Linked DNA regions of Homo sapiens. The protein of the gene in region 4 interacts with the protein of the main gene of each other region in a biochemical or structural test. Each region holds a gene or a part of one and is shown on either strand. Other genes may lie near its edges.

Evidence for each region.
Region 1: the proteins of KPNB1 (region 4) and KPNA2 form a complex in vitro, tested with the Homo sapiens proteins (6 studies listed by BioGRID and IntAct, with this or other methods).
Region 2: the proteins of KPNB1 (region 4) and KPNA1 form a complex in vitro, tested with the Homo sapiens proteins (6 studies listed by BioGRID and IntAct, with this or other methods).
Region 3: the proteins of KPNB1 (region 4) and NUP98 form a complex in vitro, tested with the Homo sapiens proteins (3 studies listed by BioGRID).

The regions. Positions count from the first base shown.
Region 1 is NC_000017.11:68,030,942-68,039,146, reverse strand, and holds the start of KPNA2 (importin subunit alpha-1), read right to left. Parts: upstream 3,413-8,205; 5' UTR 3,307-3,412; exon of another isoform or gene 2,591-3,306; intron 2,038-2,590; 5' UTR 2,015-2,037; coding exon 1,940-2,014; intron 1,790-1,939; coding exon 1,652-1,789; intron 1-1,651.
Region 2 is NC_000003.12:122,504,570-122,512,296, forward strand, and holds part of KPNA1 (importin subunit alpha-5), read right to left. Parts: intron 1-7,727. UniProt on the Homo sapiens protein: Functions in nuclear protein import as an adapter protein for nuclear receptor KPNB1. Binds specifically and directly to substrates containing either a simple or bipartite NLS motif.
Region 3 is NC_000011.10:3,794,301-3,801,853, forward strand, and holds the start of NUP98 (nuclear pore complex protein Nup98-Nup96 isoform 1 precursor), read right to left. Parts: upstream 3,255-7,553; 5' UTR 3,100-3,254; intron 1-3,099. Other genes in the region: acyltransferase PGAP2, read left to right, coding at 3,680-3,682. UniProt on the Homo sapiens protein: Plays a role in the nuclear pore complex (NPC) assembly and/or maintenance. NUP98 and NUP96 are involved in the bidirectional transport across the NPC. May anchor NUP153 and TPR to the NPC.
Region 4 is NC_000017.11:47,666,919-47,673,918, reverse strand, and holds part of KPNB1 (importin subunit beta-1), read right to left. Parts: intron 5,734-7,000; coding exon 5,509-5,733; intron 4,242-5,508; coding exon 4,050-4,241; intron 3,218-4,049; coding exon 3,087-3,217; intron 902-3,086; coding exon 754-901; intron 430-753; coding exon 358-429; intron 1-357.

The DNA.
Region 1 (8,205 bases), about 20 Mb from region 4:
TTTGTCTCAAAACAAAAAAAAAAGGAAGCATATTGTGAGAAAAACATGTAGGAAAGGGCCCAGATGAAAGATAAATTTGAAAATCTAAGTTAAGTCTACTTTATGGAAGGCCTTCATAGAGTAGGGATTTCTTAGAGACAGGGTCTCACTGTCACCCAGCATGGGGTGCAGTGGTGCAATCACAGCTCACTGCAGCCTCAAAATCCCGGGCTCAAGTGATTCTTCTGTCTCAGCCCCCTGAATACCTAGGACTAAAGGCCGGCGCCACCACACCCAGCTAACTTTACTTTTTATAGAGACGAGGTCTTCCTATGTTGCCTAGGCTGGGCTCAAACTCCTGGCCTCCAGTGATCCTCCCATTTCAGCTTCCCAAAGTGTTGGAATTACAGGCATGAACCACCATGCCCAGCTGGAGTATGGATTTATTTTATTTTTATTTTTTTCCTTGAGACGGAGTTTCACTCTTGTTGCACAGGCTGGAGTGCAATGGCATGATCTTGGCTCACTGCAACCTCCACCTCCCAGGTTCAAGCAATTTGGAGTATGGATTTTAAGGAGCGAAAACACAGGTCTAAAGCAGTACTTCAGGAAAAATTTCAGGAAAATAGTATATGGCATAAAGAAGGATATGATAAATTAGGAGGCTACTGTAAATATTTCAGAAGGAAAGTCCTGAACAAAGCTGGTGACAAATACAAAAACATAGAGAATACCAAAAAAGGCAGAAATAAACCAAAAACGGGAAGGGCCTGGTGGCTCACGCTTGTAATCCCAGCACTTCTGGAGACCAAGGCAGGCATATCACGAGGTCATGAGTTCAAGACTAGCCTGGCCAACATGGTGAAACCCCGCCTCTACTAAAAATACAAAAACAGGCCGGGCAGTGGCTCACGCCTGTAATCCCAGCACTTTGGGAGGCTGAGGCGGGTGGATCACGAGGTCAGGAGATCGAGACCATCCTGGCTAACATGTTGAAACACCGTCTCTACTAAAAATACAAAAAATTAGCCAGACAGGGTGCGGGCGCCTGTAGTCCCAGCTACTTAGGAGGCTGAGGCAGGAGAATGGCGTGAACCCGGGAGATGGAGCTTGCAGTGAGCGGAGATCGCACCACTGCACGCTAGCCTGGGCGACAGAGCAAAACTCTGTCTCAAAGAAACAAAAACAAAAAAATACAAAAACTAGCCAAGCGTGGTGATGCGCACCCATAATCCCAGCTACTCAGGAGGCTGTGGCAGGAGAATTGCTTGAACCCATGAGGCAGAGGTTGCAGTGAGCCGATTGTGCTGCTGCACTCCAGCCTGAGCAACAGAGCAAGACTCCATCTCGGGGGAAAAAAAAAAAAAAGAAGAAATAAACCAGAAACTGGCTGGCTCTGGACACACTGGTCAGGCCAAGGTACCCAGCTAGTAGCTAGAAATGCAGGGAAGTCTGAAGGAAGGTCAGAGCTAAAGGAAGATCCTAAATCAGCTTCAGTGGATTACAGAAGGCAGGAAAGAAGACAATTACTAATTGCAAACAGAGAAAAAGATGTTCACAGATAGTTAAAACCGTTAAGACTAGAAATGTTAAGTTTACTTGAATTTCTAAGAAAAGTCCCTACTGATTTTCTGGATTTCACGTAACTCATAAACTAAAATACATTTTTTACCTGGTTGTTGCGGTTTTCCTGCAGCGGAGAAGTAGCATCATCAGGAAATGAGCTTACATTTCTCCTCTTCAGCATCTGGTCATCCTTCTTAGCTTTCCTCAGCTCCACATTGACCTCTATTCTGCGACGCCTCATTTCCTTGAGAAAAGATAACATGCCGTTTCACCTATCACACCAGTTTTTGTTGCTAAGTGAGGGCATTTTTTTTTTAAATACCTCAGTTTTCACCCCTTTCCAAATGTCTTCCCATTTAAATACCACCACAGGAAAGCAACAGAAGGTACTCACTGTACTGTCTTTTCCCTTGTTCTTGAATCTGTGAAGACGGGCAGCTGGTGTATTAGCATTCTCGTTGGTGGACATGGTTATGAGACAAAGGGAGAAAGCTAAAAGATGGGGGAAGAGAAAAATATTTCCTTTATCATTTTCCTTTGTCAATAATAGTACCAAATAAGAACTGAATTATCAAGCATCTACTGAATCCACACCTGTATACTAGAGGGGGGATCATCATGTTTTCGGCACTATGAAATAGCTTTACCCAAAGGGGAAGTGTCCCCCTTCCCTCTAAAGGGCTGAGACTTCCTGGAGAGGGCTCTCCATCAGAAATAGAATGCAAGCTATATAAATTGAAACTTCCTAGTAGCCATATTTTTAAAAAGGAGAAAAGAAACAAGTGAAACTAATTTTAATAATGTATTTTACTTAACCCAACATATCCAAATAGTATTTCAACGTGTTATCAATATATAAAATAACTGACATCTTCTACATTCTTTTTCCATACTCCATCTTTGAAATCTTTTGTGTACTTTAAGCTTACAGCGTATTTCAATTTGGACTAGCCACATGTATCCACCGTTTCTGACAGCCTAGTTCGATACTCCAGAGTCCCTAATAGTTAATTCAAGACAAAGTAGGGGAACCAAGTCAACTTACAGCTAAAAATTATGTGCCAGGGCAATAAATTCAGATCCTCAGGAGGCTCTCCCTATTTTACTGTCTTTACTTGGCCAAAATAGGTGCAGACTCGAAAATTAAATAAAAATTTGCTTCATCATTACATTATGGTCAACATTAAAAATGCAGTGCCGCATCTCGCATATTTGATTTGCATTTCCAGAGACTAGGAGTGAATGCGCTTAATTAGGATGACATCAGCTGTGCGTCATTCAGAAGATGACAAAAGTCAAAGCCCTCCTTACAATTTGCTATCTTTGCTTTCATTACGCTCGCCTACGACTTGGTGGCAGAGCCACCCCCGGGGCCTAGGTGTCAGAGACGGTGCTCCCAACTGCCACCCCCAGCCCCTGCCCCCACGCCGGGGAAGATGCAACGAGAAAGGAGGAGGCGAAACCAGGGCCGCCACAAGTCCTCCCGGGACATTCGCCCTCAAGCCTGGCTCGCTCCGATTCTCCCGGCCGCGACGCGTTAAGGCCTCCGCTGCCGTTTGCAGAGCGTCGGCGCCCTAAACCCGCAGACCCCGCGAAACTCAGCCGCCTGGTCAATGAACGTCGCCCCCGAGGCCTAGTCAACGCGGGAGGCAGAGCCAGGCTCGGCGTGGACCCGGGGCCTCCCTCCCCCAACCCAAAAGGCGAACGCCGCCCACGGGCAAGCCGTTAGCGCTCGGGCCGGGCCGCCGCCTGAGTCTGTACCTGCGAAGCGGGCCTGGGCTTCCACGGGAGGCGATGCGGGGGGAATCAGCGGCTGTAGGGCGACTGCGTTCAAAGGGTCCACCTCGACTCAGCTCAAAGACCGTGTGGCTCGTGCAGCCGGCCGGCGCGATTTAAATTTCCCGGTGACTCCGCATTCCGATTGGCTGGTTCGAGCCTAAGCTGTGTGCCCATTGGTGGATTTGAAAAACACGTTGGGAGGGGAGGGAGTCATAGGGCTTGGGGGCGAGTGGGAGGGGGGAAAGAAAAAAAAAAAAAGAGGATGGCATCGCGAGATGAGGGAGCGGCCGGGCGGTGAGGGAGCGGCCGGGCGGTGAGGGAGCGGCCGGGCGGTGAGGGAGCGGCCGGGCGGTGAGGGAGCGGCCGGGCGGTCCCTGAGCGCCTGGCGGGGCGGAGCGGGAGGACTCCAGATCCCGTCAAGCAGCGCGAAGGGGCGGTTCCCTGGGCCGTTCGTGTTTCCATAGGGTTGAAGCGTGCATGGTCCTTGGGCGTTTTCCTGGGCGACAGCCTTAAACAAATACCACAAAATGATTCTCTAAGTCATTATTTTAAAAACTTTGTTGTTGATCTTCATGAAAATAAAAAAATTCTAATTAGTAAATAAGTAATCTTTATAGAAAAACATATTGCTTTGCATTTTTTTCCTATTATGACACCCAAAGTACTCGGCGGGGGTTTCTGGCTACTATGGGAGGGAAGATTTGTGTTATATTTTTTAGTTTAGTTTTTTTTTAATTGCATCATAAAAGACTGTATAGAAGCCGCAAATATGGAAACAAAAGGTTTCTTATGCCTGTTTCTCCAAAAACTCAAGTTTTTTATTTTTAAATAATTTCAAATGCAGCAGAATTGCAAATCTTTATCCAGATTTGCCAAATCTTAACATTTTGCCACATTTGCTATTGCTTTCTCTATACATATATATGTATACATATGCACGCGTGTACATATGTGTGATTTTAATATGTTACTTTAAGAGAAAGTTTCAGAATCATGTCCTTTTTCCTCTGTTTCACGGTGTCTCTCCTAAGAAAAGACATTCTCTTATATAACCACACTGCAGTCATCAAATTCAGAAAAACTGAAATTTCATGCTGTTGTTTAGTATGTAGTGTGTGTTCAAGTTTTTTCAATTGTTATAGTAACATTCTATGCTCATTACACATTTCTGAATTTTGCATTTTTTGCCATATGCTCAAACGAACAAACAAAACAAAGATGGTCAACAGAGCATCAGGATTCTGGGCCATTTTTGTTTCTGCAATTTTTTTGTGTTCTAAAAGATTACATTTTAGAAAAGTTTTCATGGTTTATTTCTTACTATAAATAAATTCAAACAGCAAGTTTGTCCATTTTTGCAGGCATTAATGCCAGCCTCATTCATCGTAAAGCCAGAGTTCATAAAGGGTTGGACCTACTCTTAATCAGCATAATCCCATCCCCCTAAATGCAAGAATGTGGAAGGAATTCACCCCTAAACCAATCACTGTGTGGCATTCTCTCAGCTACTGAGAATGGTTCAGGGGCAGGCACATGACCTAAATTCATCCAGTTGGACAGCCTCTGCCTTTTGTTTACTGGTTGGAGGTAGGAAAGCAGCCTCTGTTCTTCTGAACTAAGGGATGTGAGTCCTAGAAATCTGAATAAGAAAACTGTAGGGAAACCTTGAGAGGTCTGACCTGCTCTATCTCTGAAGGTTTGCAGGTAGGAGATCCGATACACATTTCTTTTGTATTGTCAAGTTGAGTTTCTTCTCTTTTTTTTTTTCTTTTTTTTCTTTTCTTTGAGACAGGGTCTAGCTCTGTCGCCCAGGCTGGAGTGGAGTGGCACGATCTCAGCTCACTGCGACCTCTGCCTCCTGGGCTGAAGCCATCCTCCCACCTCAGCCTCCCAAATAGCTGGGACTATAGGTACACACCACCACGTCCAGCTAATTTTTGCATTTTTTGTAAAGACAGGGTTTCACTATTTTGCCCAAGCTGGTCTCGAAGTCCTGAGCTCAAGCAATCCACCCACCTCAGCCTCCCAAAGTGCTGGAATTATAGGCCTGACCACCATACCAAGCCAAGTTGAGTTTCTTTTGCTTGAAAATACTGACTACTATGTGCCCAGAAGTGTTCTGAGTGTTTACCATATATTAATACACTTGATCTTCACAACTGTGAGGTAGTACTGTTATTTGCTCTATTTCACAAAAGAGAGCACTGAATCACAAGTGTTTATGTAACTTGTTCCAGGGTCACACAGCCAGTAAATGGCAAAGACAGGATTCAGCCATAAGCAGTCTGGTTCCAGGATCTGTGTTCTGAACCACTATTCTGTACTTGCACCTAAAAACAACCTGAAACAGAAGTATAATGCCCAAAATTGCCTTTGAAAGATACGATATCGTCGGGCACAGTGGCTCACACCTGTAATCCTAGCACTTTGGGAGGCTGAGGTGGGCAGACCACCTGAGGTCAGGAGTTCAAGACCAGCCTGGCCAACAAAGGGAAACCCTGTCTCTACTAAAACATACAAAAAATTAGCTGGGCGTGGTGGCAAGCACCTGTAACCCCAGCTACTTGGGAGGCTGAGGCAGGAGAATTGCTTGAATCTGGGAGGCAGAGGTTGCAGTGAGCCGAGATCACACCATTGCACTCCAGCCTGGACAACAAGAGCGAAACTCCATTTCAAAAAAAAAGACTAGCCTGTCCAACATGGCAAAACCCTGTCTCTACTAAAAAATATAAAAAATTAGGCAGGTGTGGTAACACACACCTGTGGTCCCAGCTACTCAGGAGGCTAAGATACAAGCATCACTTACACCTGGGAGGTAGAGGTTGCAGTAAGCTGAGATGGTGCCACTGCACTACAGCCCAGGCGACAATGCAAGACGCCGTCTCAAAAAAAAAAAAAAAAGTCCTATCATTTATGACCAAGTTTTAGCTGATGTGTTAGTCCACTAGCATAGTCCGCTTAGGTTACCATAACAAAGTACTACAGGCTGGGAGGCTTAGATAACAAACATTTATTTTTCTCACATTTCTGGATCACGAAATCTGAAATAAGGGTGCCAGAGTGGTCAGTTTCCAGGAAGGGCCCCCCTCTTTGGCGTCCAGATGACCATCGCCTAATTGTGTGCTAGCATGATCTCTTCATTTTAGCACAGAGAAGGGAGAGTGAAAGCTCTCTGGTGTCTCTTCTTTTTTTTTTTTTTTTAGATGGAGTCTCGCCCTGTCACCCAGGCTGGAGTGCAATGGCGCGATCTCAGCTCACTGCAACCTCTGCTTCCTGGTTTCAAGTGATTTTCCTGCCTCAGCCTCCCAAGTAACTGGGATTACAAGTGCATGCCACCACACCTGGCTCATTTTTGTATTTTTAGTAGAGATGGGGTTTCACCATGTTGGCCAGGCTGGTCTTGAACTCCTGACCTCATGATCCACCCACCTCAGCCTCCCAAAGTGCTTGGATTACAGGCATGAGCCACTGCGCCCGGCCTGATGGCTCTTTTTATAAGGACACTAATCTCATCATGAGGGCCCCACCCTCATGAATTCATCTCAACCTCCCAGAGGCCCCATTTCCAAATACTATCATACTGGGAGTTAGGTTTTCAACATATGAATTTTTGAGGGGGATGCAAACATTCAGTTCTTAATATCCATTCACCAGCCTGGGCAACATAGCGAGATGCCCTCCTCCAAACCACCATCTCTACAAAAATTAAAAAAAAAAAAAAAATTAGCAGAGGCTGGGAGCAGTGGCTAACGCCTGTAATCCCAACACTTTGGGAGGCCGAGGCAGGTGGGTCACTTGAGGTCAGGAGTTCAAGACCAGCCCAGCCAACATGGTAAAACCCTGTCTCTACTGAAAATACAAAAATTAGCCAAGCGCGGTGGCTCGTGCCTGTAGTCCCAGCTACTCGGGAGGCTGAGGCACAAGAATCGCTCGAACGCAGGGGCAGAGGTTGCAGTGAGCTGAGATTGTGCCACTGCACTCCAGCTTGAGCAACAGAGTGACACTCTGTCTAAAAAAATAAATAAATAAAAATAAAAAATTAGCCAAGCATGTTGGTATATGCCTGTAGTCCCCGCTACTTGGGAGGCTGAGGTGGGAGGATGGCTTGAGCCTGGGAGGTGGAGGCTGCATTGAGCCGAGATTGTACCACTGCATTCCAGCCTAGGTGGCAGAGTGAGATGCTGTCTCAAAAAAAAAAAAAAAAAAAAATCCATTCAGATTATCTTCCTTCAAAATATGAATGTTGAGTTAAAACATGCAAAGAAAGAAAGAAAGGGGCCTGGAGCTGAGCTGGCTGAAAGACATAGGACCACCAGCTACTGAGGCTGAGGCCCTTTAGTTACTGTCTTTCTAGGCCGTCTTGTAAACTCATGTTTCAGTTCTGTGAACTATACAACATCCCTCAAACACACCACTTTCTCAATTTTTTCTTCTTTTTGAGACAGGGTCTTGCTCTGTCATCCAGGCTGGAGTGCAGTGGCACGATCAGAGCTCCCTGCAGCCTCAACCTCCTGGGCTGAAGTGATTCTCGTACATCGGCCTCCCAAGTAGCTGAGACTACAAGCATATGCTACCACGCCCAGCTAATTTTTGTTTTTTTTTGTAGAGATGGGATTTTGCCATGTTGCCCAAGCTGGTCTAGAACTCCTGGGCTCAAGAGATCTGCCCACCCCAGCCTCCCAAAGTGCTGAGATTACAGGTGTGAGCCACCGTGCTCAGCCAAATACAGCCCTTTCTGATTTGAGTGTGGCAGCAATCCCTAATTCTCCACCAAAACTCATGTTTCACCTTCCATTTGGTCTACTTGTTGCTGGTAGATGGGTGGATGGGTGCCTAGCCAGTGACTCTACTTTTCAGTTTCCTTGGATCCAGGTGAGGCCA
Region 2 (7,727 bases), on a different chromosome or scaffold from region 4:
GTTGACGGAAACCCTGTACTTTCCATTCAATTTTGCTATGAACCCAAAACTGCTCTAAGAAACTGTCTGTGTGTGTGTGCGTGTGTCTGCGCACACGCATGTATGTGTGTATTTAGACTTCCCACCCCAAGAGGGGACAACCAATCTCATTTATGGATACTGGTGAGATTTTTAAGTTTCACTCCTTTCACTCTATTACTTCAATGGATGCATTTAGACTTTGGGTGAGAGAGAGAGAGAGATTTTTTAAAACATAAATATCTCATCAGTATCCATAAATGAGATTCGTTGCCCCCTCTTAGGATGGAGAGGGGATTACATTTGTTCTGTTGGGAGAGACTCTTTTTTTTTTTAAACACAAGCCTCAAATGTCCCTCTAAAGAGTCTAATTAATGTGTCTGAAGCAGACAGACACCTCTGGGTTTTTCTTCCTTTTAAGATCCCCAAGTGGGCCAGGCACAGTGGCTCACACCAGTAATCCCATCACTTTGGGAGGCCAAGGGGCGGGCAGATCACTTGAGGTCAGGAGTTCGAGACCAGCCTGGCCAACATGGTGAAACCCCGCCTCTACTAAAAATACAAAAATTAGCCAGCATAGTGGCATGCACCTGTGAGTCCAGGTACTTGGGAGGATGAGGCATAAGTATGGCTTGAACCCGGGAGGCAGAAGTTGCAGTGAGCCAGGATTGTACCACTGCATGCCTCAAAAAAAAAAAAAAAAAAAAATCCAAGCAAATTCTGATATGCATCTGCAGTTGAAAATCACTATAGTAGAGCAAAAGTTTTATTTTAAAACAATGTAAAATACAGTTGAAAATGAAGGCTGAAGTTGGACTGAAGATAGCTTTGATAGGAAAGAAAGGAAATAAATCTCTATGTCTGTAATAAGAGGAATAACAAAGTAATTGTATGAGAAAATTAGTTTATCCTAAGCAAATATTTTTAGGTGTTATCACCTAAGCTACTAATTAAAAATTGTAAGTTACTTTTCAAAGTACCCTCTCAGGAATCAGAAGCCTTCAAAATTAAAGCCATTATACCTAAATTTCCTCTTGTTTTCTAGAGAAATAAAGCCAAAGAAGCAATAAACTTAAAAACAAGATGCAATACTGGTGGTGAAATAGAAACACACTCTTTCAAAGACAGATCCCCTCACTTTCTCCTTCATGTCTAGTTACTCAATTATCAAATTTTGCTTATTCTATCCAAAGTCTTTGATTTTATCTGATCCGATCTATTCCCACTGCCACCAGCCTGGCTCAAGTCTGTGTCAACTGACACCTAGATAACTACAACAGCTCTAAACCAGCATTCTTAACCTCAGACTCTTTGCTCCTCAATTCATCCTACACAGCCCTCAGATTAATCTCAACACCCTTTTCACTGTATCACTTCAATGGATAAGGAACTACAACGTTTTTAACCACTTCTTAGAACAAGTCTAAACTTCTTGGTCCTGCAAGATCCTTTTGTCTGGATTCATTCAATACCATTCTCCACCACTCTAAACCCAAAACAATGAGTGTAGATCTTTTTATATTTTTATTATATTCAAGATGTTATATATTCAGTGCACTGGGTCAGCCCACCTAATCAGTAAATCTCAAACACATTCTAAATGTTCTGAATATTTAAAATCCATAATACTCTTGTGGAACAACTTGAAATCCTAATATACTTAATTCCACCATATAAATCAGGCATAATTTTATTAGAAAGTATATGATATGCATTTACTATTAAAAACCAAAACTACAAGAAAGTATGACTACAAAAAAGTTATGAATTTAAATAAGTGGAGTATAAGTATAAAGTGTTCAGTTCATTTGAAAATATAAATTATTGATGTTAACAGCTTCTAGTCAAACGATAGTAGGTCCGTTTAAAATATTTTAATAGAAATTAGAAAAGAAAATTAAAATTTGAAATATCCTACCCATTCTTTTCCTATACGATAATTAAGGAGTAGCTTTATTTTTATTAAGAGCATTTCAGTGTTCAATGAAAGCAAAGTTTGAAAAACCCTTCAATAAAGCTTTTCCTGTGAGAAGTCAATGTGGCAGACATATGATTCATAGGTGTTCATCTCTGGCCTCATCTTATAGCTCTAACCAATAATCCAATGGCAATACATATTTTCTTTCACAGCCCAGTTTCAAATGTTTTCCTTTGAGAGGTTTATCATAACCTTTGCCCCAAATTCTGACCCCCAACTCCCAGTATCTATAGGTTCCCAAGCTGGGAAGTTCTCCAAAGACATTCTCAATATCAAAACACTTAAAGGAAAATATCTGTCAAGGATCTGGAGAACTCAAACCCTGAATTGAATACTTCCACTTTTAGAATGTACATAAAGGAAACAAAACTAGTAGTATGTGTAAGACTGTTCACTGCAGTGTGATTATTCTAGTGAAAAATTGTAAAAAACCTAAAAGTTCCAATATGAGGGCTTGGTTAAAGGAAATGTTCACAATGTATTGAGAAAACAGAACACTAACATGAAAAATCTGAATGCTGGGAACAAAAACCCAACCTACACTATTCTCTATACTTTCGAAAAATATTTCGTAACTTAAGAAATCAGAATATAGCTGGGCGCAGTAGTTCACACCTGTAATCCCAGCACTTTGGGAGGCCAAGGCGGGCGGATCACCAGAGGTCAGGAGTTCGAGACCAGCCTGGCCAACATGGGGAAACCCCATTTCTATTAAAAATACAAAAATTAGCCGGGCGTGGTGGCGGGCGCTTGCAATCCCAGCTACTCGGGAGGTTGAGGCAGGAGAATCACTTGAACCCAGATGGCAGAGGTTGCAGTGAGCTGAGATTGTGCCATTGCACTCCAGCCTGGGCGACAGAGCAAGACTCCATCTCAAAAAAAAAAAAAAAGAAAAGAGAAGATATCAGCATATAAAATTTGAATATGGAAATATTATTTTATCTTCCAAATTTTCTGTGATAAGCAATATACTGATTATACAAGAAAAAAACTTTCAAAAAGTAGAGCTGAAAGCATATGTTTACTATGATAAAGCTTATCAACCTACCTAAAACACTGAATTTCTATACTTTTCACTACTATTTTTTCAACTGAGTATGCTGTTATTTCTTCAGAAGTTCTGATCTTTATGGTCTTTATGAAGGAGAAAAATTATCTCTTATCTAAAAGTTGAATGATTTTTTGGGGGGTTAAAAAAAAAAAAAGACAAATCTTTCCAGAAGATGACATAAAGGGTTCGTTCCCTCAGTAGTAAAAAAATTTTTAATCGCAAAAACTTGCCTTCATTCAATTCATATCCATTAATGAATTTAATAACCACTGTAATATATCTGTTTTAAGAACACTTATGAGGGTTTTCAAATTTCAAATCAGGAATTAGCACATATAGACTGCACTTTTCTTCCCATATCATATTAACTCAAAGCCAGAAATTCAATTTTAATCTTCAATAGGCACACAGTGGTCATTCAAATGCTGTGAAAAAATGAACAGAGGAGAAAACAAAGAGTTTATGTAAAGAAATAAAATGGTAGACATGGTAGAATACTAAAATTATAAAGAAATTTTTTTTTCAAATAAATGAACCAGAACCACGGCATAAAGAGAATAGGTAAGCAAAAGAATCAGAGATGGTGTCAAAACCTAAAAGAAGCCATAAAATAGACAAATTATATGTCACTAGCAAAGTGGAAAACTCTGAAGCCTAACCTGCAAACGAAGAAGGCAATAAGAAACAAGCTGATTCACACTACCTACCCACAAACAGGATGCTTCAGACAGATCATCCAGGTACTATCCCTCCTTAAGGTAGTGAGGAGTTGGGCTCAAAATCAGAAGGTTTGTTGAAAGTCTACAAAACAGCCATCACATGCCCAGATTTCCTCCTCCACTCTTCACAACCAGACAACCATCCTTCAGTAATCCCTTCAAATGGGTGCTCCAATGCAGGTGAGGGTGGGGGTGAGGTGCCTTATTGATAACAGAATTACATGAGCACAACAGTAAAAACCCAAGCTCCTTTTCTAAAATGAGTTCTCAAAACATGGCAGCCAGACACACATTCTCCTGGCAAGAGACTGGAGACTCTCAGGGAAACTGACTAGCCCAAGAGAAACAAACCTATGAGTATATGCCCTCCACCCACCACAAAAAAAATGGCCACCAGCTACTCTCTTCACCCTTCAACAAGCCACACTTAATAGAGCTTCCAATTCAGTTTTTGGCACTTCATTCTTAAATATGAATGGACAGCCACAAGACTACCAGACATCTGGGGAAAGCCTCAATAAAGAAAAGACAACAATGGTAACAAAATTTTTAAAACTATCATTAATATCCCCAGAAAGAATACAGCATCTATGAAACAACACAAATATACTATAAAATAAGAATGAGAGGCTGGACGCGGTAGCTCACGCCTGTAATCCCAGCACTTTGGGAAGCCGAGGAGGGTGGATCACTTGAGGTCAGGAGTTCAAGACCAGCCTGGCCAACATGGTGAAACCCCGTATCTACTAAAAATACAAAAATTAGCCAGGCGTAGTGGCGGGCCCCTGTAAACCCAGCTACTCGTGAGGCTGAGTCAGAACAATGGCTTAAGCCCAGGAGGCAGAGGTTGCGGTGAGCCAAGATCATGCCACTGCACTCACTTGGGCAACTGAACAAGACTCTCTATCAAACAAAAAAAAAAAAAAGAAAGATAAAACCAAGTAAAGGCAAACATGTGAGCAAAAAAGAACTCTCAAGCACTCAAGTAGGCACATACACTAATTCTCCCACTCTATGCCCAAGGAATCACAATCTTGGGTATATATCCTAGAGAACTTCTATACAGGTCTATAATAATGTACAAGAGTATATATAACACAGGGTATTTGAAATAGCAGAAAGGCAACTCAGGGATCAATTCCTAGGGAATGAAAAGTAAAATGTGGTAGATCTGCATTACAGAATTCTACATTAGACACAACTATACATACTTACAACAAAACAGAAAGATCCCCAAATCAATGTTGAATAAAAAAGAAAAAGACCTTTGCAAGGTCTATAACACAATACCTAAACATACACAGCTCCACTACATATTTTACAATGTTTCATATATAATCAAGGAATGTACCAACCACAATGTTATACAAAGAGGTAACAGAAGTAGGGCTCAGAAATTTAAGATAAAAATTTAAAGGACCTTGTACGATCTGATGTGTGACAAGAACTGAGAAGCATAATTCATTCTAAAATTCTTTTTGCCTAACATCCAAATAATAACAAAAACTTTCGAGAACTAAAGGACATGAACTCCCAGCTTATAAAGGTCCATGGAATGCCCTTAAACAAAAAAATACCCATACCTAGACACATCATCATGGAATTTTGAGGGTTAAAAATATCCTAAAAGCTTCTAGAGATTGGGGTAAAGGAAGATCACATACAAACAAAGAATCAGATTGGCTTTGGATTTCAAGAGTAACCCTGGAAGAAAGAAAACAATAGAACTATGACTTGCAAACTTGAAGTAGAAGTTACTTTCAACTCAGAATTTTATACCCAGACAAATTACTGATCAAATGCGAAGGAAGAATAAAGATTTTTTTCAGTCATGTAAGATGTCAGGAAGTTTTTGTTTTCCATGTATCCTTTCTCAGAAAGCTACTAAAAAATGTACTCCAAGGAAATAAGTAAACCAAGAAAGAAAATACAGGAAACAGTAAACAGGGGAACCAGTACAAAAGAGGGCAAAGAAGTTTAAGGATGATGAAAAGAGAAGTCCCTGGATAACAACTATGAAATAGGCCTAGAAAGTAACCAGTCCTAATTGCATTAAGAGGTTCCAGGTTAGCTGTCTCAGGAAATGAAGCAAACAACAACAAAAAATACTAACTTGTAGAAAAACAAAAATTTATTAAGAGAAGAAATGATATCACAGTACTCTACATGGGTCAGCTGTGAACATTTATAGAGTTACAATATTGTAAACACTAAATATTGGTTTAGTAGACACACCTGTGATAACTATATTTGGAGGATGGTAGAGACAGTGTGTGCATATGGCAGGTGAGGTGAATATATATGTGAAACACTAAGGAACATCTTGCTTAGACGAAAGCCAATAATATCTATAATTGCTATATCATGATATAGCAATAAAAGCAAGTCACTGTATTTATAAATATGAAAGCAAACACAAGAGGAAACAGCTAGAAGAAAGAAAATGGTAGCTTTTCAAGTGCAGAGGCTGGGACAGGGAACAGCTGCTTTTCAGGTATTCTAATTCCAAAATTTTATTTTTTTAATGTTGATAAAACAAGGAACTTGAACAATCTCACGACGGTTATATTAGATCTTCAGTATTATTTCATGGTGTTAAACTACATCTAGTTTGTTCTGCCAAAGAGACTGAACGGCTAAAACCAATCTTTAACGATCAATGTGAACACAGTACAAACAGCCCTATTTGAATCCCAACTCCACTACTTTGTGAAGTAAGGCGAGTTACCCAATCACCTTGCACACGTAATCACCTCCTCAAAATGGTTTTGCAAGAACAAGTAAGTGAAAGCACCTGATGCAGAACCTGACCCATCAATAGATGTCAGAGTACTTTCAGCGGGTCTTTCTGTTCCCTAGCTGACCCCAAGCTGCCTATTCTGACCCCAAGCTGCCTATTCTGACCCCAACCTGCCTTGTTGCTCACAGAGTATATAGGCACTCATGGACTCAGCACATATCCCTCCTCACGCTGGAAAAACAATCATGATGAGTAAGCAGACTTATCTTTGTATATGAAGGGCAGCATTATTCTTGTTAATATGAAGGAGATTATCTCCATTATCCACATTCTGGATTACTGCCTGCTTTCAAGAACTGTCCCAATTAGTCTACAACACTTGGACAGAACCATTTTTTCATGTTGTTTTGTAGGTTTGTAACATCTTTAAAAAAAAGAAAGAAAGAAACATACATTCCCACAGTCTTCATCCCTACTCTTCCAATGTACAACCTCAAAATTTTCTAATGCAGGCCCTATCTGGCCCTCAGTTGGCCTCAGGCCATCTCCTGCTTACTGCAGCAAAAGACAGAAATCAGCCCAAATCAGCTAATTTAACTGTTTACCATTTCCAGTGTTTTCTTCCCTATTATGGCTAAATTCATAACACCATGCAAAGTACAAAGATACCTTAAAACAAAACAAGGAGTTATCTTTATCACTAGGTCAGTCATCTTTACTTGCAAGACCAATCAAAGGTCTTAACTGATTTTATACACAGTACTCATACATCTAAAAACAATCTGGTAGACTTAAAAGCACAGACATCATAAATCATTAAAACTCTATTTTATCATTAATTCAACAAACACTGTGCTAAAACACTGAAGATGCAAAGAATAAGATATAATCCTATTCTCAAATGTAAAGGGAAAAGGGAAAAGGTAAAAGGACCATTGAGAGCAACAGAGAATAAAGAAAATAATGCAAGAAACAACTGACAGCAATTCCAGGTTACGTATAAAATAATTCTTAACATAGTTGAGACTAAAGAAAATTATAAAAATTGAACACAGCTCTGAGACTCCTGACAGTCAAAGTATAGAGAAACAGGATGGCTTACAAAACAAAAATAATCTAATAAAACCAATCATTAGTTTAAAAAAAAAAAGCTTAATACTGGGGTCTTAGGAAGAATTTGTCTCTAAGGTCTGTATTTTATAGGAACCAATACATAAATTA
Region 3 (7,553 bases), on a different chromosome or scaffold from region 4:
AATACATACTGTTTTGTTTTGTTTCTTTTCTTTTTTTCTTGAGTCAGAGTCTCGCTGTCGCCCAGGCTGGAGTGCAGTGGCACAATCTTGGCTCACTGCAACCTCCGCCTCCCGAGTTCAAGCAATTCTCCTCCCTCAGCCTCCCGAGTAGCTGGGGCAATGGGCGCATGCTGCCACGCCCAGCTAATTTTTCATATTTTTTTTTAAGTACAGATGGGGTTTCACCATGTTGCCCAGGCTGGTCTCAAACTCCTGAGCTCAGGCAATCCACCCGCCTCGGCCTCCCAAAGTGCTAGGATTACAGGCGTGAACCACCACACCACGCCTTTGTTTTAAGACAGGGCCTCACGCAGTTTCCCAGGCTGGAAAGCAGTGGTGCAATCACAGCACTGCAGTCTCAATCTTCCAGGCTCTGATGTTTCTTTGATTTCAGCCTCCTAAGTAGCTGGAGTACAGGTGCATGCCACCATACCTGCCTAATTTTTGTATTTTTCGTAGAGACAGGGTTTCCCCATGTTGCCCAGGCTAGTCTTGAACTTCTGGGCTCAGGAAATCCACCTGCCTTGACCTTTGAAGTGCTGGGATTACAGTAGTCAGTCACCATGCTCAGCCAATACTTATCCTTAAATCTCTGAGTTTCTTAGTTCCCTAACCTTTCAACAAATTACATAACTGCATAGTCTCATTATTGGAAATTAAACATTAGTACCATCATTCTTTACTTTCCAGGTTAACTACCACCACATAAATCATATTACAAGAAAATAATATAATTTTTTCAAAGCCGTAAATTTAGTTCCTTAAAAATTCTACTTGCTCTTAGTTATCTAGGACCTAGTAGACATAAAGTCAGGTACTGGCTGGGCACAGTGGCTCATACCTGTAATCCCAGCACTTTGGGAGGCCGAGGTGGGGGATGGCTTGAGCCCAGGAATTCGATACCAGCCTGGGCAACATAGCGAAACCCTGTCTCTACCCAAAATATACAAAAAAATATTAGCTGGGTATGGTGGTGCACACCTGTGGTCTCAGCTACTTGGGAGGCTGAGGTGGGAAGATTGCTTGAGCCCAGGAGGTAGAGGCTACTGTGAACCGAGATTGCGCCACTGCACTCTAGCCTGGGTGATGGAGTGAGACCCTATCTCATAAATAAATAAACAAATAAATGTCAGGGACCAAAGTATCACATAACATATAAACAGCAGGAACTATCTTATCTGGGCCCCATATTTCAGGAGCCTCTCTATTGACTACTGTTAGGTATAACTCCTCCATATTTGTCTATTCATTCAAGTAAACACACTTACTGAGGGCCTACTATGTGGCAAGCAACTGGACAACAAAGATAAGATGAAAATATTTTACCAGCCTAATTAAAAAAACAGCTAAAATAAAAATGATATGTGCTATAAATAGAAATATCAAATAAGTGTTATGGAAGCTTGCAGAGAAGAGAATGCCAAGAAAAGCTTCCCAGAAGAGGGTGATGCCTGAACTGAGAAAATGTCACGGAAAACATACCCTGTTCACGCTTTACTATTTAGACTACGGTTCTCTTCTGCACTACTAGTTCTGAGTTTATGCTTTGTCATCTATACAAGAACAAAGTAACAATCTTACTGATGTGTACAGAACCAAGTGTCAACTAATTCAATTTCATCAAATCTGAAGAGTCAAAAAGAATAATTTTACCCAAGTATTTCCCAGTACCTTTATCCTGTCCAACCTCTAGTTTTGGTTTTTAAATACCCTAACTTCCTCCACCAGGTAAACATACTGTAACCCAGTTAACTCGAGTTTCTTTTCGAATTTGTAAGACCGTCACAGGGAATGATCACTGCTCTCTTTTTGCTCTTTATTCCAGTTAGCTTCTTCCTCCAAAACGGAGTTTTATTTCCTCACCTTATTCTACTATAATACTTCACTTTGAATTCTGTACCTGAAAGGAGCCATGAGTTCCGAGGTACAACTACTACAAACGGACTCCTACCTGGCTTTCTAAGTCTTATCAATATTTCCTGCTTTCTATTCCAGTACTGTTATAAATCCCTAACTGACTCCGAGTCCTCATCAGCTGACACAAGTCAAAAAATTCAGATTTAGAAAGGGAAACAATGGCTTGTAGTTTTACCGATTTGTTTCCGATACATAACAACGCTGACGTTCTTTAACCATCTTCTAAGTTTAGTTCTCAAGCTCTAGGTTAGGGTACCACTAACGAAGCTTCCACCTTACCCGTGAACAGAGCTGGTAGCAACTAAACGGAAAACGCTGTGAAGACTACATCTACGTTTAGCTACCTAATGTCCATGCCGCACCGACCTCCTAAAGGGAATTCTTAATAATGGGAGACTGAAATATCCAGGGAGGGTGAGGTAGTAGAAAACTGTTTAGACTGTCAAAAATCTGGCATTGGCTAATCCTGCCTGTTACTCCGGGCCTCGGTTTCCCCATCTACAAAACTGATGTAAGGTAGGGGGATTGACTTAAACAATTTCTAAAGTCCTTATGGCTATAGTAATCCAGAAACTCAATCTGTCTCCTCATCTGGCTTTACACTGAACACGTGGGAAAATAGAAAAGAACCTTTTGCTCCACCGAACCGACTCCTATTCTCAGATATTATCTTAAAAATCTCCCAAACTTCGGACTCACCCTAATCCTCGGGGTGCCCACTTCCCTTATGGAGAAGCCAAGGCAAATAAAGCCCAGTCCCACATGACGGTCAAGGAAGTGCGGGGCAGACCGTATTCAGGGTTTCAAGGCGCTGACCCCGGAAAGGCCAGCCCACCGTGGGGTCCTTACACCACTGAATGAATGAGTACAACCAGACAGACACCCACTCGCGTGGGCAGCAACTGGAGACCTCCAGGCCTAGACCCCACTGATGTCCATTCTCTCCCAGGGCCTCCAAAGCCGGGCCTCCCGGGCTCCGGGCCCCCGGGTCCTCAGCACCGCCCCTCTCTCAGGCCAGAAGGTGCGCGCAGCGGCGCTAGACTTCGAAGCGGAGAGGCCCTGAGACGCCCCGCGCGTCCGCCCGCCCGGAAGGGGGGAGAAACCTGCCGGTCTCGGCCGCTGCAGCTCGGGCTCCCGACTTACCGCGGTTCGGTGGGGAAGGGGAAGTGTCAGGAGTCCCCTGCTGCCACCCGCCGCTCACAGAGCAGCGCGCGGCCCCCACGAAACCGTCGCCGCCGCCGCTACCACCCCTGCCACCGACCGCCGCTTCGGGCGCAGCGCGCAGAGGGCCCGACTGCGTCACACGCCGCCCGGCGTCAGAGGCTCGTTGCGGACGCTCCGCCCTCGCCGTCCGCGAATTGGTGGACGCGGCCGCCACTCTGGGTCGACCCTGTTATTCATTGGGCAACGCGTCTTTTGAAACCGAACTGAAGGGGGAAGGGGCGAGAGGGAAGAGGAGGGGCAGAAGGAGTTCGGGGAGGCACAGGGTAGGAGCGGTGAGAGGGCCGTGGAGTCCCGCCCCTCGCCGCCGCGGTTGGCGGGAGCGTGTCGTGACGTCACACAGGGCCTCTCGAAGTGGGCTTGTGAATGGCTAGATTGGGAAGCACCGGCGGGGTGTCGGGAAGGGTGGTGACGCAACATAGAGACTCCGCCCCCTTCCTTGGAGCGCCGCGACTCGGGCTGAGGGAGCTCGGGCCAATCAGAGGGACGGCCCCAGAATGGCATGGTAACTATTCGACCCTTTCCTTGCCCCGGTCCGCCGGCGCTGCTGGGAAGGCTTCCTAGTCTCTCTGCCCGCACTTCCCGCCCAGACCACGTGCGGAGCCTGAGGGCCCTCTTGGAAGGTCTGTCTGTCCAAAGAGTTTGCCCGAGGCTTCTTCAGGGCCCTAAATCCTGACCCTATTCTCTCCTGACCCATGCTCGCCCCAGCACTTTCTTTCCCTCCCTGAATTTCTAGGATGGACATTAGGAGCATTAGAGATGCCCTAAGGGACTGGCCCACCAAAGGGCCTGGTACAAATGAGGATTGTTGGAACGTCTTTCCCAGCTGCACGTGGAGAACCCCTAATTCTTTTTTTTTCTTTTTCTTTTGAGATGAAGTCTCGCGTTGTCGCCTAGGGTGGAGTGCATTGGCGCAATCTCGGCTCACTGCAACCTCTGCCTCCCGGGTTCAAGCGATTCTCCCGCCTTAGCCTCCCAAGTAGCTGGGATTACAGGCGTCCGCCACCAGGCCCAGCTAATTTTTGTATTTATAGTAGAGACGGGGATTTCACTGTGTTGGTCAGGCTGGTCTCGAACTCCTGATCTCAAGTGATCCACCCGCCTCGGCCTCCCAAAGTGCTGGGATTACAGACGTGAGCCACCTCGCCCATGAACTAATTTTTTTTTTTTTTTTTGAGATGGAGTCTTGCTCTGTCTCCTCTTTCTCCCAGGCTGGAGTGCAGTGGCACGATCTCGGCTCACTGCAATCTCCGCCTCCCAGGTACAAGAGAGTCTCCTGTCGTAGCCTCCCGAGTAGCTGGGATTACAGGCACTCGCCGCCGCGCCCAGCTGATTTTGTATTTTTAGTAGAGATGGGGTTTCACCATGTTGGCCAGGCTGGTCTCGAACTCCGGAACTCAGGTGATCCGCCCGCCTCGGCCTCCCACAGTGCTGGCCTTACAGGCGTGAGCCACCGCGCCCAGCCGAACCCCTACTTATTCTTAAAGGACGGGTATTTCAAATGTTCCCATCTTCTCAGTGATACATTTGCCAAGCTTTCACAGCGAGTTGAGCTAATGCTTGGGCAGGCCTCTGTTAAAGCCTTGTCACTTTGTATCCTATTATTTACCCTCGGTTTTCTGTGCCTTGGGCTCTTCTTGGAAGTCCTTCTGGGGCCTAGCCCATTAGCAGAAAACTGATATTACAAGAGTGAAAGGTGGGCATTTTCTAGAAACTAGACCTGTTTAGTGACTGAGAGTCTCATAGCAGGAACTGTGCGCAGAAAGCAAAGCGTATACTGGCCGGGCTGGTGGCTCATGCCTGTAATCCCAGCACTTTGGGATGCTGAGGCGGGCAGATTATTTGAGGCCAGGAGTTCGAGACCAGCCTGGCCAACATGATGAAACCCTGTCTCTACTAAGAATACAAAAATTGGTCAAGCATGGTGGTGGGCACCTATAATCCCAGCTGCTTCTCGGTTTGCTGAGGCACGAGAATGGCTTGAACCAGGGAGGCGGAGATTACAGTGAGTGGAGATCCTGCCACTGCGCTCCAGAGTGATCTCAAAAAAAATTTTTAAAAAACCTCCACCACTACTCCTTTGTGAGACATGAATGCAAAATTGAACTGGGCTTTTACCTAAAATGTAAATGAGTTTAAAGCCATCTGGGTTTTCGGTGATGGCAAGGGATTAGAGATAATTGATTTATTTGTTTGTTTAAAAAATGGGAGACTGGGAGTGGTGGCTCACGCCTGTAATCCCAGCACTGGGGAGTTCAAGGTAGGAGGATCACTTGAACCCAGGAGTTCGAGACCAGCTCGGGCAACATAGTGAGTCCCCACCTATACAAAAAATTAACCAAGGCCAGGTGTGGTGGCAAGCGCCTGTGGTCCCAGCTACTAGGGAGGCTGAAGTAGGAGGATCGTTTGAGCCCAAGAGGTTAAAGCTACAGTGAGCTGTGATTACAGTCATGCCACTCCCGCCTGGGCAACAGACGGAGCCTCCGACTGGGGGAAAAAAAAGGTGGTGGGTTGTAAAGATGGAATAAGATAGTGGATGGAAGAAACACGGTACATTGTAGGTGCTCAGTAGATACTTGAAGGAAGAAGAAAATCAATATATGGTTGGCCAAATAGTAAAGTTACTTTAAACAACTGACTGCAGCCATCTTCCCCCAACTCCTCCATCCAAAACACCCCTACTTTACAACCACACTCCCTTGCCTTTGCTGGACTTTAGAAAGTCATTAACTCTCCCTAGATAGTTACAGTAGCTTCATAACTGCCCTCTGGAACATTTGATTTCTTGCCCTTTAATCTCCAAGCCCAATTATTTTTAAGGCTCTCTTCTACTGACTTATTTTGGTGTCCCTAAGGCAGGGCACATAGTAGGTACACATTAGATATTTGATGCACGAATGAGTGAATTATTTTCTTCAGTGGGGGATTAGTAGAGGTGTTGGACTTTGAGTCAGAGAACCCTGGTTTAAATTTGGATGCAGATTTAATTTAATTCAGTTTAAATTTATTTATTAATTTAATTTAATTCAGTTTAATTTAATTAAGAAATTTGGGCCAGGCGGGATGGCTCACGCCTGTAATCCCAGCACTTTGGGAGGCCGAGGTGGGCGGATCACGAGGTCAGGAGATCGAGACCAGCCTGGCTAACAGAAGGAAACCCCATCTCTACTGAAAATACAAAAAAATTAGCCGGGCGTGGTGGCACATACCTGTAGTCCCAGCTACTTGGGAGGCTGAGGCAGGAGAATTGCTTGAACCTGGGAGGCGGAGGTTGCAGTGAGCTGAGATCGAGCCACTGCACTCGATCCTGGGCCACAGAGTGAGACTCCGTCTCAAAAAAAAAAAAAAAAAAAAGAAATTTAGGCAAATTTCCTGCCGGGAATGGTGGCTCACGCCTATAATCCCAGCACTTTTGGAGGCTGAAGCAGGTGGATCACCTGAGGTCAGGAGTTCGAAACCCGCCTGGCCAACATGGTGAAACCCTGTCTCTACTAAATATACAAAAAATTAGCCGGGTGTGGTGGCTCATGCCTGTAATCCCAGCTACTTGGGAGGCTGAGGCAGGAGAATTGCTTGAACCGGGGAGGCAGAGGTTGCAGTGAGCTGAGATGGCACCATTGCACTCCAGCGTGGGCAACAAGAGTGAAAGTCTGTCTTCAAAAAAAAAAGAAAAGAAAGGAAAGAAAAAGAAATTTGGGCAAATTTCCTAATCCCTCTGAACCTCAATTTTCTTTTGTATAAAATGGGGATAACAACCACATTTGCCTTACAGGGTCGTAGTGAGCATTAAAAGAGAGAATACATTTAAAGCACTTAGCATAGTACCTGGCACAGATAAGGCCTCAATAAATGGTATTGTTTGCATTATTTAAAAATGTATCCCAGCCGGGCATGGTGGCTCAAGCCTGTAATCCCAGCACTTTGGGAGGCCGAGGCGGGCGGATCACAAGGTCAGGAGATCGAGACCATCCTGGCTAACATGGTGAAACCCCGTCTGTACTAAAAATACAAAAAATTAGCCGGGCGCGGTGGCAGGCGCCTGTAGTCCCAGCTATTCGGGAGGCTGAGGCAGGAGAATGGTGTGAACCCAGGAGGCGGAGCTTGCAGTGAGCAGAGATCGCGCCACTGCACTCCAGCCTGGGTGACAGAGCAAGACTCCATCTCAAAAAAAAAAAAAAAAAAAGTTTCCGGGCACGGGGGCTCACTCCTGTAATCCCAGCACTTTGGGAGGCTGAGGCGGGCAGATCACCTGAGATCAGGAGTTCAAGACCAGCCTGGCCAACACGGCGAAACCTCATCTCTACTAAAAATAAAAAAATTAGCCAGGCATAGTTGCCCACGCCTGTAATCCCAGCTAGTCGGGAGGCTGAGGCAGG
Region 4 (7,000 bases):
TCACACATTAAGTAGTTTCCTTCTCTACACAGTGACATTAGTTGAAACAAACGAGTGAGGAAGAGAGGTCTGAGGAGTGTATGTTGAATTAGGAGAAGTCAAGTTGGTTTGATTTTATCAAGATTACATCTAGACCATCTGTAAATAAGTAGGATTTGAATCTTTCTAGACAGACAGGTAAGGCAGGTGGGGAATTCCTCTCCCAATCAACCAATCACAGACCAAAGCCTTCTGAGAACAGCTTCTGATCCGCATCATCTATACCATTTTCGAGTTCTGTGTGTACACGAACTTGTTATACTGAGATACTAATAATTCTCCAACCTGGAGTTATTAAGTCATAAGGCACCACCATACCTGAAGAGTTGCACAGAGTAAAGACTGAAGGTCATTGAACTGGATTCTATCGGATGTGCTCTGGATATGTGACTACAAAGAAAATAAGAAAACATACTCTACATGAAAACCTTCCACTTTTGCTGGGACCATTTAATAATCTTCCCTAATACTAACATAGGAAAGTAAACAACAGCAACAAAAAACCCATAATACATATAGTGTAACACATATATGAGTAAACCATGACAAACAATGCTAACGTTAAGGTGCAATGTTTTTTGTATAAGCTTTATTATCTTTCTGAGAAAATATATACTTAAACACTAAAAAGACAGAACAGTCTGGAAAACAGACCTAGGTGTCAAAAGTACTACCCAATTCCCACCCATAGTCAGGGGCACTCTTAGGTCTCACCTCCATCTGAAGAACCTGTTGCAGTCGTTCCATGATGACCAAAGTCGTTTTCTGGACAGCAGGATAACAATCCTTGGCACTGTTTTTCACAATTTCCATCAGAGATTCATATGCAGAACTCCTCAGGTTGTTCTGGTGTCCATCAGGTCTGTAAAGAACACAGCGAAAATCTTAAAGCCTCAAATGAAAAGGACAGGGAAGAACATAGACAATGTCTTGCCAAAAATAAGAACTCAGGAACCGGTATGTCTGCAGACCTGGTTTGAGTTTGAAAACACAATATCCAAGAATGAAATCTTCAAGTCCTTTGAGCCAATGGCTATGTTCATTATGGTCTCCAGACAGTTAAAATTTAGAATGGCCCTTTTGGAAATGGGCTAAAATTATAGAGGAAAAAATGGTTTGAAATGGTAAAAAATCATGTGAACAATTTAACAGGTTGTCTGAAGTGCTATGAAGAAAATACCCCAATTTTCCTGGCTAGACGTGATGGCTCATGCCTATAATCCCAGCAATTTAGGAGGCTGAGGCAGGCGGATCACTTGAGGTCAGTTTGAGACCAGCCTGGTCAACATGGTGAAACCCCACCTCTACTAAAAATATAAAAATTAGCCAGGTGTAGTGGCTTGTGCCTGTAATCCTAGCTACTCAGGAGGCTGAGGCACGAGAATTCCTTGAACCTGGGAGGTGGAGGTTGCAGTGGGCCGAGACCGCACTCCAGCCTGAGCAACAAGACCGAAACTCCGTCCCAGAAAAAAAAAAATACCCCAATTTTCTTCATTCATTTAAAAAAGATGTCTTCATATATAATCTCAAAGAGGCATGGACATGAACTAGTTAAATGGAAGATTTTTTTTTTGATGGGCACAGTGGCTCAGGCCTACAATCCCAGCACTTTGGGAGGCCAAGGTGGGCAGATCACCTGAGGTGTCAGGAGTTTGTGACCAGCCTGGCCAACATGGCGAAACCCCATCTCTACTAAAAATACAAAAATTAGCCAGGCATGTTGGTGGGCACCTTTAGTACCAGCTACTCGGGAGGCTGAAGTACGAGAATCACTTGAACCCAGGAGGTTGCAGTGAGCCAAGATTGCACAATTGCACTCTAGCCTGGGTGACAAGAGAAGACTGTCTCAAAAAAAAAAAAAAGGAAGATTTTGTGCTCAGCTCTCTTCCTGAAGGTTTACTTTGCTCATGACTTTAGGTATAGCTCATACAAAACATAAATTGTTAAAGGTTGTCTCCAACTTATAATCCCTTTAAACAACATTTCAAAAGCTTGTTTCTAAGTCAACTGTATTTACCCCAAGTTCTTCATCCTATATAAAAATATGGTAGTTGGCCGGGCATGGTGGCTCATGCCTGTAATCCTGGCACTTTGGGGGGCGAAGGCAGGTGGATCACGAGGGTCAGGAGATCGAGACCATCCTGTCCAACATGGTGAAACCCTGTCTCTACTAAAAATACAAAAATTAGCCAGGCATGGTGGCATGCACCTGTAGTCCCAGCTACCCAGGAGGCTGAGGCAGGAGAATCGCTTGAGGAGGTTGCAGTGAGCTGAGATTGCGCCACTGCACTCCAGCCTGGGCAACAGAGCAACACTCTGTCTCAAAATAAATTAATTAATTAATTAATAAAATAAAATAAAAATGGTAGTTATTGATTTGGTGTGGCAATCAAATTCATAATGAGTACTATCATTTCTCTTGTAACCAAATACTCCTGTTAACTGTCAATGCTGCAAAATGAAGGAACCTCTCTAGATCTATTACTCTCTACAAAGAAAGCAGAGAAATTACACTATATTCAGATTTCAGCTGTAAACTGAACAATTCTAAGGTAGGTGGAATCTGCATTTCTTTCTCCATCTTTAAACAAACCAATCAATCAATCATGGAATTCTTTTTTTTGAGACGAGTTCCACTCTTGTTGTCCAGGCTGGAGTGCAATGGCGCAGTCTCAGCTCACTGCAACCTCCATCTCCCAGGTTCAAGCAATTCCCCTGCCTCAGCCTCCCAAGTAGCTAGGACTACAGGCATGCGCCAGCACGCCCGGCTAATTTTTTGTATTTTTAGTAGAGACAGGGTTTCACCATGTTGGCCAGACTGCTTTCGAACTCCTGACCTCAGGTGATCCAGCCGCCTTGGCCTCCCAAAGTGCTGGGAATATAGGCGTGAGCCACCGCGCCCAGCGGGTTTCTTTTAATTCCTCTAGAGAAGGTAGAGTCTTGTCCTGTCTCATTATGCTTCTATGATTAAGCTAGATATCCTCCACACAGAAGGCAATAGAACTTGGATGCAAAGACGTCACTCATTTCTGTGAAATATCAGTTACCTGTCTGTAGTCTCTAGGAGCTTCTGAACTATGAGTTCAAATGAAGAAGATAAGCAGTAAGTAGCTGGTTCTTCCTGATCATCAGCAACGTCTGCAGCTTCATAAGCAGCTTCAGCCAGACTGGAGAAAGCCTGAAATGCACATAGGTTCAATGTTAATCCTGAAAGAACCCCACACCTTAGGATTATCTCATTTTTCATTAAGATACTTTGGGCCGTGTCAGTGAACTTCCAACTTTTTCTGCCAAGGTCATCTCAAGACAGCATTTTACAGGTATCTTTTAAACTAACTATTTATTTATTTGATTTGTACTTCCTGTTCATCCTGTCTGATAATCTGACAACTCTCTAAGCAGCAGAGTACTTTCACCAATACCTGCCATTTCTTCTGTTTCCAATCACAGAAATCCTGTCTGATAATCTGACATCTCTCATCATCCTGTTTGATAATCTGACAACTCTCTAAGCAGCAGAGTACTTTCAACCATACCTGCCATTTCATTTCTGTTTCCTTTCACAGAAAGACGTTTAGCCCCATTCCTTCCTTATTTGAACTTCCTCCCCTTAACCAATTACATTAGCCTATACTGACTCAGCATTTAGGCTGCCTACCTTCCTTCCCTCTTGCCCTCTACTCAGCAATGATACTTCTTACAGCCAAAAACTCTCTACCTTAATCAAAACTTCTTGTCCCCAAGCAATTCAAGAAAGCAACCCAAGTCCAGATAGTTTCCCCACTGGGTTACCATGACTGTTCTAAGTGGTTCAGGAACCAGTAACCATAAGTCAAGTGTTCCCACTGGCTCTTGCAGTTGGAATCTCCCCCACATTTTAATTGAATAAATTAGAAAGAAAATCAGAAAAAGCATTCCAGTGAGGCAGATTGATTTCTCTCCCACACCTTCTACTTTCTTGCCAGTGGCGCAGGCAAGCTCCTTTTCTCACCAGCAAGAAAATCCCTTACCCAGCACACATTTGAAGCCACTCTGGGTTCAGCACTGAGACCCTCAATCAGACACTGTAGCAGGGGAGCCAAGTAGACATCATTGATGGCAGCTTCAGGAAGCAGCTCACAAATTCTGCCTACAGTCCATGCAGCTGTATCTCGAACAACTACACTGGGGTCTTTCATTAATTCTATTAGGGTGGGCATAGCCTGAAAATATAACAGTTATTAGCAAAGCAAAACAAAGATTAAAATTCATGTTAACTACTACCCCAGAGAAAGAAATACTGATGGATGGCTTAACTCAAAAAAGTCACCAAGATACTTCTGTAATTTTACAGGACATGGTGTGAAACATCTTTCAAAATATTTGAAAATATCTTTCAAAACTCCAGTTTAGAGTTTTATATTAAGAATTTGGTGTAAATGCTTTTAGTAGTCTGCAATAAATTACTCAGATAGAGGCCGGGCATGATGATGGCTCATGCCTGTAATCCCAGCACTCTGGGAGGCTGAGGCAGGCAGATCACTTGAGGTCAGGAGTTGCTTGAGGTCAGGAGTTCAAGACCAGCCTGACCAACATGATGAAACCCGGTCTCTCTACTAAGAATACAAAAATTAGCTGGGCATGGTGGCACATAGTCCCACCTACTCAGGGGGCTGAGGCACGAGAATTGCTTAAGCTGGGGAGCTGGAGGTTGCAGTGAGCCTAGATTGCACCACTGCACTTCAGCACTCCAGCATGGGTGACAGAGTAAGACTCCATCCCCCCGCCTCCCTACCTCAAAAAAAAAAAGAATTACTCAGATACTCAGAATTCTCAGGATGCAGCTATGATGGCATCTGGCTATATCCAGAAAGACTGAAGACTGAATTCTTTAAGCACTAAACTCAACTATAACAAACTCTTTTTTTTTTTTTTGAGATAGAGTTTCGCTCGTTGCCCAGGCTGGAGTGCAATGGCACGACTTGTAATAGCAAAACAAGCACAACATTTCCATAAGAACATTTTCATTACATAAAGGACATTTTGTCCAAAGAATAGAATAATAATGCCATTATTAAAAATTATGGGGAATCAGTGCTAGGTGCAAAAAAAAATTATTGGGAAATGTTTACAACATAGTATTAAATGAAGAAACAAGTTATAAAACAATCTGCACAGGAAGAGCCTGTTGCACACACATGCACATAGGAAAAAGCTTCAAGGATAAATACAGAGTTAAGAGTGGTATTTCTGGGCAATGAAATTAAAGATGACTTTTCTCTTTTGGCTTCTTTCACATGTCTCTGGATCATGCTGACTTATGTAATTAAAAACCTAAGAAATATATTTTACCCTCATTAAAAGTAAACAAGTATCTAGAGATAATCTTTGTAGATGACAATTTACAGTTTTGTTTTGAAAAATAAAGATATGCTTTAAGTTTAAACAATAAATATCCTACTTTCTACTCCAAAAATCCCTCAGTTTCACCTGTATAACTAGTGGTTTGAGCTGACTGGGCTCTGGTCCTTCCAAGATACAACCAAAAGCCATCACTGCTGCATCCCGGTACCGCCAATCTGGGTTCTTGATGTGTTCTTTAATGAAGGGGAGGACATGTGGGACAATGTCATCTTCACAGCAGGTGGCCAGAAGCATGAGGCACACCCCTGCTGCTTTGCAGGGGTTCCAGTCATCGTCATCATCATTTTCGTCCTGGTGAAAGAATATGGCACTAGTTAAGATTTTGTCCAAAGAATCATTTTAACTCTAAAGGTCCTCTGACTACTCTTGAATGTCTTTAGAACTTAAACTCCAGGGAAATAAAATATAAGACCTTTATATTTTGTCTCTTCCACAAACATTCATCACAGCATAGCCTTTGTTAAACAAGATTCAGATGGAAGAAGATTCCATTTAGTACTACACAACAAGAATGAAAAAATTTCAACTACATCCAAAAAGAATGAATTCCAAACATTTAGAACAAAATACAGAACTAGAATGTATGCTGTATGATTCCAGTTATGTAAAGTCCAAAATCGGCCAGGCGCGGTGGCTCATGCCTGTAATCCCAGCACTTTGGGAGGCTAAGGTGGGTGGATCACCTGAGGTCAGGAGTTTGAGACCAGCCTGGTCAACATGGTGAAACCCCATCTCTACTAAAAATACAAAAATTAGCTGGGTGTGGTGGCACGTGCCTGTAGTCCCAGCTACTCAGGAGGCCAAGGCAGGAGAATTGCTTGAACCTGGAAGGCGGAGGTTGCAGTGAGCCGAGATTGTGCCACTGTGCTCCAGCCTGTGTAACAGAGTGAGACTCTGTCAGAAAAAAAAAAAAACATAGTATTAAAAATAATAATAAATAAAGTCCAAAATCAACAAAAATTAACCTATGGAATAAAAGACCAGGAAAGTAAGGGAGTTTCATGACTGGGAAGAAGACATGATTCAATCAAAAGTTCAAAAAAGAGGCAAGGTGCAGTGCAGTGGCTCATGCCTGTAATCCCAGCACTTTAGGAGGCCAAGGCAGGCAGATCACTTGAGGTCAGGACTTCGAGACCAGCCTGGTAAACATGGTGAAACCTCGTTTCTACTAAAAATACAAAGACTAGCTGGGTATAGTGGCACACACCTGTTAATCCCAGCTACTCGGGAGGCTGAGGCAAGAGAATCACATGAACCAGGGAGATGAAGGTTGTAGTGAGCCAAGACCGCCCCACTGCACTCCAGCCTGGGTGATAGAGCAAGACTCTGTACCCCCCAACGCCACCCCAAAAAACCAAAAACCAAAACCACAAAAGTTCAAAAAAGAAAAGATTCCACTAATATCTCCTCTTAAGTTAGAATCCAAGGTATAGCTTCCTAATTGTGGCCATTCACACCACATAGTAAACTTAAGGCAGGTTGCCTATGCAGTTTCAGAAAATCACACAAAGAATAATTTGTTCTCAAATAGGAAAAGCACAATAAAAATATAAGAAAG